Regions from separate parts of the Homo sapiens genome. Here region 1 is linked to region 2. The links come from fine-mapping of genetic effects on gene expression. A gene starts in region 2. The other region holds a variant in brackets. All regions are shown on one strand. Distances are between the middles of the regions. Region 1 overlaps RPL34-DT (RPL34 divergent transcript). Region 2 holds the start of RPL34-DT (RPL34 divergent transcript).

Evidence for each region.
Region 1: its variant is fine-mapped to the expression of RPL34-DT in whole blood (INTERVAL, PIP 0.90).

The regions. Positions count from the first base shown.
Region 1 is chr4:108,588,529-108,593,910 of GRCh38, reverse strand. All of the region lies in intron 1 of RPL34-DT (RPL34 divergent transcript), which reads left to right. Among named protein-coding and RNA genes, the nearest start is that of RPL34-DT, 29 kb to the left of the region's middle. The variant TC/C (reference allele first, on the strand shown) is at 2,534.
Region 2 is chr4:108,618,000-108,623,381 of GRCh38, reverse strand. RPL34-DT (RPL34 divergent transcript) reads left to right here and starts at 2,925. Exons shown (of 4, transcript NR_026968.1): 1 at 2,925-3,074. It overlaps RPL34 (ribosomal protein L34), which reads right to left and starts at 2,806. Exons shown (of 5, transcript NM_001319236.2): 1 at 2,782-2,806; 2 at 1,358-1,431; 3 at 1,178-1,277; 4 at 764-867. The coding sequence starts at 1,422. RefSeq lists enhancers at 2,794-2,843, 2,069-3,268.

The DNA.
Region 1 (5,382 bases), 29 kb after region 2:
CCATTGCACTCCAGCCTGGGCAACAAGAGTGAAACTCCGTCTCGAAAAAAAAAAAGAATAGCTTTGTTTGGCCAGGCACGGTGGCCCACTTTGGGAGCCGAGGTGCGTGGATTGCTTGAGCTCAGGAGTTCGACAGCAGCCTCGGCAACATGATGAGACCCTGTCTCCTCTAAAAATACAAAAGTTGGAGGTCGGGGGAAAGGGGACAGAGAGCATTAAGACAAATACCTAATGCATGCAGGGCTTAAAACCTAGATTACAGGTTGATAGGTGCAGGAAACCACCATGGCACATGTATACCTATGTAACAAGCCTGCACATTCAGCACATGTATCCCAGAACTTAAAGTAAAATTAAAAAAAAAAAAAAATACAAAAATTAGCTGGTGGCCGGGCACAGTGGCTCACGCCTGTAATCCCAGCACTTTGGGAGGCCGAGGTGGGCAGATCACTTGACGTCAGGAGTTCAAGACCAACTTGGCCAACATGGTGAAACCCCGTCTCTACTAAAAAAATATAAAAATTAGCTGGATGTGGTTGCATGCGCCTGTAATCCCACTTACTTGAGAGGGTGAGGCAGGAGAATTGCTTGAGCCTGGGAGGCGGAGGTTGCAGTGAGCTGCGGTCACGCCACTACACTCCAGCCTGGGCGGCAGAGCTAGACTCTACCTCAAATAAATAAATATATAAATTAATTAAATTAAATAAAAAAAAATTAGCTGGTCATATTGGTGCATGCCTGTGGTCCTGGCTAATCAGGAGGATTAGTTGGGAGAATTGCTTGAGCCCAGGAGATCGAAGCTACAGTGAGCCAAGATAGAGCCACTAAACTCCAGCCTGGGCAACAGAATGAGACCCTGTCTCAAAAAAAAAAAAAAAAAAAAAAAGAATAGCTTTGTTGGAGTTTCCCCCCGCCCCACCCCCCACCGTATAGTCTCTATTTCCTTCAAGTTGCTTTCTTTTGTTTATTGGTTTGGTCTTTATCTTCCATATCTTGTCATCCTTCCTTTATAATTAAGAACAAGGGATTTAAATCATAATTGGTTGCTCTGGGTGCTTCTGTGGAGCTTGTTTACTTTGGATGTCACTGTCAAGTGGTCTGGATAGGCTCTTTGTACTTCCAATGTCAATATTTAAAAAATCTTTCCTCCTGGCAGGGCATGGTGGCTCATGCGTGTAATCCCAGCACTTTGGGAGGCCCAGGTGGGCAGATCACTTGAGGCCAGGAGTTCAAGACCAGCCTGGCCAACATGATGAAACCCCATCTCTACTAAAAATACAAAAATTAGCTGGGTGTCGTGGTACATGCCTGTAATCCCAGCTATTTGGGAGGCTGAGGCAGAGAATTGCTTGAACCTGGGAGCCAGAGGCTTCAGTGAGCGGAGATCGCGCCACTGCACTCCAGCCTGGGCAACAGAGCAAGACTCCATCTCAAAAAAAAAAAAAAAAAAAACCCAAAAAACAAAAAACTTTCCTCCTATGTTGAGATTTTTAGCAGAAAACATTCTTCCGATCTCCTTACTAAAGGGAAATGACCAGGCTTCTGGCATTCTGGAAGCCAAGTGGAGGAAGTGATGAAAGGTTTTAGCATTCCATATGCATTCAGTCATGCAATCTGTCTGTGTTTGGTATGATGATAGATCTTTAATTGTATCTCGTGTCCTGCATTTCAAAGGCCTTCTGCTGCGCTTACTCCTCAGAATAAATCAGGTGAGGAAAGGGCAATGTGAGTTAAGGTATAGAGATTTAACCCAATGGAACAGCTTTCATTCAATCCTCATTTTACCCTCTTCATTATTTTGGCCTCCCCTCTACACCAGTGGTAGGGGTATATGGCACTGCCAGTTGTCAGTCTGCTTTTCAGATTCCAAAATTTTCCTGCCCTTGTATTCTCTTGTGCTTGCTTGCTTGCTTTTCTCTTCCTTCCTTCCTTCCTTCCTTCCTTCCTTCCTTCCTTTCTTTTTCTTTCTTTCTTTCTTTCTTTCTTTCTTTCTTTCTTTCTTTCTTTCTTTCTTTTTCTTTCTTTCTCTTTCTTTCTTTCCTTCTCTCTCTCTCTTTCTTTCTTTCTCTTTCTTTCTTTCTTTCTTTCTTTCTTTCTTTCCTTCTCTCTCTTTTCTTTCTTTCTTTCCTTCTCTCTCTCTCTTTTTCTTTCTTTCTTTCTTCCTTCCTTCCTTCTTTCCTCCCTCCCTCTCTCTCTTTCTTTCTTTCTCTCTCTTTCTCTCTTTCTTTCTTTCTTCTTCTTTTTTTTTTTTTCCAGAGTCTCACTCTGTCACCTAGGCTGGAGTGCAGTGGTGTGATCTTAACTCACTGCAACCTCCGCCTTCCAGGTTCAAGTGATTCTCCTGCCTCAGCCTCCCAAGCAGCTGGGATTACAGGCGCCCACCACCATGCCTGGCTAATTTATGTATTTTTAGTAGAAACGGGGTTTCACCATGTTGGCCAGCACCTGATCTCAAGTGATCTGCCCTCCTCAGCCTCCCGAAGTGCTGGGATTAGAGGCGTGAGCCACCGTGCCCGGCCTTTTTTTTTTTTTT[TC/C]CAGTTTTTTCTTTGTTTTTTAGTTTCTCCTTTTTTTTGTTTTTGTGTTTTTTTCATGTGAGTTGTACCTTTTCAAGAAAATCACTTTACTCAAGTTTTATGGAATTTTGTAGAGCAGCAAAATTAGATGTGTGGTTTAGTCTACCATCTTAACCCAGAAAACCATTTAGATCTACTTTTGCTCCTTTTTTAAAAATGAATGAAGTAGAAGTTTCAGGATACTGAGATAAAGACCAAAGCGTTCTTCTGTCTCCTTTATTTTCTCTCCATGACAATGTGAAACCATATTTAGATCAAACAAGTGTTCATTTAAGCCCTGTGCTTTTGAGAAAAATAGTTTTGAAAGTTTGAGCAATCTGAGCAAACTTGGCCCTTGGAGCTGACCCAAAGGAGTTTTCTACAAACCATGACCAAACTTTGTGGACACAGAGGCTGGTTGCTTAAAGAACAGACCTCTCCTAGGTCAGAAATGATAGGTTCCACTGAGAGCAAATTCAAACAACACTGTTTCATTTGAAGGAATTTCAATATCTAGGTTTTTCTCTAATAAATACATTAAACAACAAGCTTAATTTTTCTTGTGTTACTTATTACACAATTACAGATGTTACTTACTGAAATATGGATAAATTGTCTTTTAGGAAATGTTGACTGAGGACTAAGTATGAAGTACAATAAATAGAAAGTCAGAAAATACTAATCCCATTCATTTCCTATTTAAAAATGAGAAAAATGAATTATTAATTGTATTGTAAGAGTTATGGATACTTCAGGACTATAAACTGGGAATTTTGCCAAGTGTTGCTCAGACCAACCTTGATTAACATTCATTCACCATTCATTCATTTATTCATTCATTCACTCAAACATGTTTCTTGATCCCCCATATATGCAAGGCTCTGAACTAGTTACTGGACCTCTACCCGTGAACAAGGCAGACCCTGCCTTCTTGGAACTTGTGCTCTGGCAGAACGGACAAGCATGAAACAAGTAATTGCAACATGATTTACTGTGGTAAGAATATAAGAGAGGAGTGCTTGCCTTAATCTCAGGTGTAATGTTTGAGTTGAGATCTGAGAGAGGAGTAGATGTTAATTAGGCAAAGAGCAGGCATAGAATAGGGGGCCTGGAAATCTACCAGATCTAAGTCACAGAACAGTCAGTGTAAATACCCAGAGACATTCCTTGAGACACAGAGGGGCACAGACACAGCAAGAGAACTGGGCAGGAGGCAAAGTCCACATCATGATTAGCTGTAATGCTTCCTCAGGAAGACAAGAACTCCTCACAGCAGAAACACAGGGCAGAGAAATTTTTCTGCCCAACAGTTTGAACGGTCACCCTGCTTCAACATGACAAAACAAGCCAACGAAAATATTTTACTCAGGACAAGTTTTCAAAAAGCATAAATGCATTTTTTAATGGTTTAGACTTTTATTTGAATACAAAATGAAGTCTCTTACTGGTGAATAAGAACAGCATCTATTAAGAGTACCCAAATACCATCTATTATGTTATTTGCTAATGTATTTATACCACTCCCGCAAGCTGGTGTTTCTGTTTTGTTTTGTTTTAATCACAATTCAGTGTTAAAAAGATAAAGCTTTTTAAACATTCACTGTTGCTCAAAAGCTGAGTGCATGTGCTGTCTCAGATCATGAGGTTAGTGGTGCTTATTTCAATATTAAATAAAAGGATTCATTTTCATTGAAGCAAGCAGGGAATTAAGCTTACAACTTCAATTACCAATAATTAATTCTCCACACTGCAAGCCATGCAGTTTGCGTTTAAACTCCCAATGCCCCAAGGATAACAAAAATCTATTTTGATCACTTTTTATTTTCATCATTTAAAGAGTACATCTTATTTTAATTAGGCACATACATTTCCAGATTATAAGAGAGAACAAATATCCCTTCTAAAAAAAAAAACAGGGAATTGTGGGGAGTGGGGGACAGAGGACTTTTAAGCATGACAAAGAAATTTCTGAGATATTTTCTTTCTCTTGCTTTTATTGAAAGAGCACCTAATATTGTCGAGAATTAGCTACCTCATATCCATGAAGCTATTATTTACAGGCAGATGAATAATTTCTCTAAATTCATTTTTCCTTATGCATTAAGCTATTCTTTGCTGGCTTTTCATTATTTAAGAGAAAGAAAGCAATTGAGCACATGATTTTAAATGAGGCAAAATTAAGTCCTGCTCCAAAGCCAACCCCACCAACTCTGGAAGCAGGCATAAGGATGAGAAGGACTCTTCAGAGAGGGAGGCTTGACCTAGTGGTGGGTAAGGGAGACTGAGCTCATCAGGATCTTCCTTATTCTTTTGACAAATTCTGAGCAACAGAAAGGAACCGCCAGGGTGTCACCAAAGCAAAGACACAATCAGAGCTGGAGTTCTTAGAGATAAAAAGTGATGCTTGGAATTAGGTTTCATCAGAAAGAGGCAGACCTGTGTGGCATCCAGAAAATAAGTTCTAAGAAGACTCTTCTTTCAAGTTTTAAAGACATTAGGTTTCTTCCAGCCTGTAAGTGCTAACTTTGCCCCAAATAAATCTCATAATTCATAATACAATTGACCATGTTACAGTAAAATCTCATTTAAGTGGAACTTAATTAAATGAAACCATAAATTAACTAGAATTAGCTTCTATACTTGGCTTTCAGGAAAAATAGGGGAATCATAAAAAAAATGCAGTATAAGTCATTTAATAAAAAGTAATAGTTACAAAGGCAAGTTCTAAGGTCAGTGCACCTTCATCCCAGTCTTCAACCCACAGCTGAACAATGTCCAAACATATCCAGAATCTTGATCTTAGTACCCTACAAGATCTTTAATATAGGCA
Region 2 (5,382 bases):
CTGTAAAGCCCCTCATAATCTGGCTTTTCTTTCTTTCCCTTTTTTTTTTGAGACAGAGTTTCGCTCCTGTTGCCCAGGCTGGAGTGCAATAGCGCAATCGCAGCTCACCACAACCTCTGCCTCCCAGCTTCCAGCAATTCTCCTGCCTCAGTCTCTGAGTAGCTGGGATCACAGGCATGCGCCACCACGCCCAGCTACCTTTTTGTATTTTTAGTAGAGACGGTGTTTCTCCATGTTGGTCAGCCTGGTCTCAAACTCCCAACCTCAGGTATCTGCCTGCCTCCGCCTCCCAAAGTGTTGGGATTTCAGGCATAAGCCACCACACCTGGCCATAATCTGGCTTTTCTACCTTTGTTGTCCATCATCTCCTGCAACCCTATGCTCATGAGAATACACAACTCTTCTGTTCCTACACTTTTAACACCTTCCGCACATGAGAATACACAACTCTTCTGTTCCTACACTTTTAACACCTTCCACACTCCATCTATCTTTGTCCAAACCACTAACAGAGACTTTCTTACCCACCTCCTGAACAAAACCAAGTTCCTTTTAATCTCCACATCTAGCATAAATATGCCCCCAAATTATTACTTTGAATATCATTTCCTGCTTTGTGCAGCATCAATTATCCATAGCAAAGAAAGGGTTCTAAAGCATGCAACTGGTTTAAAATGAGTTGCTTCACCATTGTACTGATCAGCAGACAGTATAACACACACAATAATTTGCTAAGGAAAGCCCATTTAAGCATTTAACTTACCTGTCACGAACACATTTAGCACACATGGAACCACCATAGGCCCTGCTGACATGTTTCTTTGTTTTGGACAATCTCATAAGAACTTTAGGTCTTACAGCACGAACCTGCATAAGAAAAATATTAAGATTTTTGTGATGCTTTAACAGAAATTTCCCTAAATTTTGTTAAGTGTTAAGGGCAAGTTTAAAGTAGGTTACAAAGGGAAATGGTGTACTCATTTATCTGAAAGGCATTTCACTGCATTTCTCAGATTGGTTTAAAAAGTCTATGTTCGTGGCAGATTTGGCTCATGAATGTTTAGTAATTCTGAACCCTCTTAGTGGTAACCTCTCCTTGATTCATTCCATCGTCAAGGGATGAAAGCTCAGTAAGTTCAAGACTTGTTAGGCTGCACACAGTAAAAGGTACACTTACCCCTCGAAGTCTGCCTGGGCACACACCACATGCAGATTTTGGTGCTTTCCCAACCTTCTTGGTATAAAGGTAAACAATTCTATTACCAGGGGTTCGGGACCTAGAAAGTGAAACAGTCAGTAGGTCAGCATTTTGTAGAGTAAATGACAATATATACTTAAAATTTTCAGAAATACTTACAGCCTAGTTTTGTTAGAGGCTGTATTGTAGGAAAGCCTACGTCGGTATGTCAAACGCTGGACCATTCTGAGTGCCTAAATTAAGAATAGAGTAACATCAAATCTTTCCATTGTAAAAGTAAATAAAATCTCAAAACAGTATCATGTGGTCTATTTCATTCACATACATATCCTTGTATGTAACACCCTTAAATTAAGATGTATTATTCCACATTTTAAAACTACTTGTATTTAAAGGTGACTGATAAACAAGAGGCCAAGAATGTTAGCTTTCCTGATGGTAATCAAACGTGGCACTTCCTTAACGTTCTGATGACCAGGCTCCTTACTCAGAGTCTAATTTTGTTTGGAGTGGTGTCCAGAAAAGTGCCACGAGCCCAGTTGGAGAAACACCGCTTTAAACAAAGAGCACAAAAAGTGAGCTCTGAAGTCGAATCCTTAGCTATGCCATTTACTGGGAATATAAAGGGCAAGGAGCTAGCCTCCTTATCTCTAACATGGGAATTCTGTCTACTTTATACAGCTGTCATTAGGATTAAACGACGTGGGCTATCCGTCCCAACACAATGCCTGGCACATATCAGGGTTCAATGTCTTGCCCTAAAGCACCACCTGCGTAAAGGCATACCCTTTAATACTAATTTTGATATTACACAAGTTTCTTTGGGTTATGGCACCTGCTTTCTTCCCACTTCTGGAAACATCGTGATGTTATTTAGCAAATCGGTTATACAGATATGCATACGAGCAACTTCGTTAAGGGAACTACCCAACGTAAAACATAATCAATACTTGAACTAATTTAATCTTCCCATTCCACCCCTTGTAACCACCTCATTTGTTGTCACAAGCCTCTCACTAAAATTAAACTAAAACAGAATTACCAGACACCAAAACTTGACACGTAAAACCAGTGCGAGTGATTTATGAAGCCATTATTCTGTTTGCATCTCCAAAAGCAAGACAGAAACTTCTAACACATTTTTCTCTTCCTTGACATGGGCCTTGGACGCAGAAGCCAAATAGCGAAACCACCCGAACTCGCCGGACCCTGCCCTCCCAAAGACTAAGGACACGTACAGGCGTGCTGTGAAAACGTGGGTGTAAAATATGAAAACGTTTGGCGATTTTCCAGACTCAAACCGCCAAACCACAACTCGTTAGTCTCCAAACGCTACACTTGGAATGCAGCAAAGTCCCGGGTGGTGAGCTGTGGCTACTCACGGCTTTGGAGGTGCCACCAGGAACAAGGGATTTCCAAAGATCAAAGTAAGGAACTTCCTCACCACCAACCTCCCTGTTGTGCCCCTTACCCCTACACCAGCTCAAAGGACTGCTTCTGAGAGCTCTAGGCTTCCTCAGCTCCTCGGATGGCAGCCGATTGGTAAGGAAATAAAGACAGGGAAAAGAGAACAACATCCATACCTGCAGACAACGTCCCCGGAAGAGGAAGAAAAAAGCCTTTGCCAGTTCAAAGGTCAAATAGAATTGCGCAGGACAGGAAGTTGCGTCAGAGAGAGAGTATCCGTGTTGTACGGAAGCCGACGCACCTCTCCGACGTGGGCAGAGATGCAGGGAACCACCACGTTGTACGGCAACCAACGTGCCGCCCCTCTGTGGGCGGGGATTCACACTAGCTGTCTGTGTCAAGGCCACGCAGAAATCTATTGGAAATCGCTGTGGAAACAAACGCAAATGAAAAGCCGCAAAGAGCAAAGGTGGGACAAAATCAACTTCTTTCGTTGTCATGGACACTGCACTTTTAATCTAAAGGGCGCCAGCTCTGGCGTTAGACCTGGGTTTAAATCCCAACTCTTGACATTTATGGTTAAGGGACCTTCAAGGACCAGGGACCTTCAAGAACCTTCCCTTCTTCAACCTTCCCTTCTCTTTCCTTGTCATTTATTCAGAGCACAAGCTTTACAAACAAATTGGGATTTTAATCCAGTGTCTGCTAATTATTAGCTATGTTACTTTGAGCAAGCCCTTAAATCTCTAAAAGGAAGATATTAGGAACTACCGTGCCATGTTATGTCATGATCAAAGGCATTATGAAGTTAAAGCACTTAGCACAGGGTCTTATAGAGAGGAAGTGCTCAGTAAATGGTTGCTAATCTTATGATTATGTACAAAGAACTACTTGAGGCTTTTCATGGGTGGTAAAGTTTAACCTTTAAAACAGTATGTAAAATTTTACATTAAGCGCACGTGTGTATTTTTCTGAGAAGAGGGTCCCTGGCTTTCATCACCTTGTCAAAGGGATTCATGACCTCTAAAAAAGTAAAGAACTCTTTGCCTGGGCTGTAAAAGACAATTCTAAAAGGGGCCTTTAAGTTTTTAATCTTAGATCAGGCTCCCTGGAAACACACCTCGAAGAGACTTGAGTGTTGGCTTATGGGGAGCGCTCTTAGAATGCACCTCCAGGAAGCTGAGAAAGGCGGGGTCAGGTGATCCACAACGTGGTTGCTGTGAGGCAGCTGCATTGCCCCAGAAGAGAGGATTTGGATAGGATATCCCAGTACCCACTCAACTTTCCTTCTAGTATTTCTAATCCATCTAGCAAACCAAGAAAGCAGGCAAGTGACTGAGGGCATGTAGTCTGTCTTGAACTGTGAGGCCTATTGATTCTATCAAGCCTCACATCACTGCCATCTTTGTCACAACACCAGATGGAAGGCTCTGGTTATATCCTTCCCTCTGCTCACTCTCAAATAGCTGCTTCTCCCCCGACCTTGTCATCAGCTACTTCCCTCCTTTCCAGTCCTTTGATTTTTGTCCTCTGAAATCCTTTTCGTCTCTGTGCCAGGCATTGAGATGGAAGCTTGCATAGAGAGACAAATGTGGTTTTTGAATAAATGCACTAATGAATGTATTTACTTGCAATATGTTCTCTATATTTTAAGAGAGACTTTGCAGAGCAGAAGAGAACAGGAGATGGGAGCCCTTGGCACACTATGCTGTTGTTTACGTCTCTGTCCGTGCCTTCCCCCACCCAAGTAGATAAGAATAGTGGTCTCATTGTTGTAGTTTTCCCTTAAGGTACTTAACCCAGTTCCATAATACTATTTTTCCCTCTCTTTAAATTTGTATTTGCATTTTTTCTTGATCAGTCTTGAGAGAGATATGGCAATCTTATTAAAAACTTCAAAGACAGCCAGGTACAGTGGCCCATGCCTGTTAATCCTAGCACTTCGGGAGGCTGATACAGAAAGATCACTGAGACCTGTAGTTAAAGATCAGCCTGGGCAACATAGCGAGACGCCCATCTCTACAAATTTTTTTTTTTTAATTAGCCAGGTGTTGTAGCACACACCTTTAGTCCCACCTACTCAGGAGGCTGAGGCTGGAGGATCACTTGAGCCTAGAAGTTTGAGGCTGCAGTGAACCATGATTGTGCCACCATACTCCAGCCTGGGCAACAGAATGAGATCCTATCTCAATAATAATAATAATAATAATAAATGTATGAAACTTTGGTATATGACAAAGGTAATATATCAGATTGGTGGGGAAAGATTGGTGACTATTCAGTAAATGAAGTTGGGAAAAATGGTTATACATATGGAAAGAAAAAATTGTATCCTTAAGTCACTCTACACTGAAAAAAAAAACCTTAAATGAGTCAATAATAAGGCTTTAATTTATTAGGAAATATAGGTGACTATCTTATAGACGTTGGAGTAGAAGAGGATTTTTTAAACAAGGCACAAAAAGCACAAACTCAGAAAAGACCAATAAATCTGACCACATTACAATTAATAGCTTTTATCAAAAAACCCTTAAATAAAAAAATGTTAAACCTCAAAGTTTCCCAGTCCAAGCCAAAAAAAGTATGATAGGTTCACCTTATTTTAATTTCACAAAAATTTGTAAAATATTTATTAAGTGCACACAGAAATTAATGAACAGAGAACAAAGACAGATTAAAAAAACAAATGAGATTCTTTAGGCCGGGTGTGGTGGCTCATCCCTGTAATCCCAGCACTTTGGGAGGCCAAGGCAGGTGGATCGCTTGATGCCAGGAGT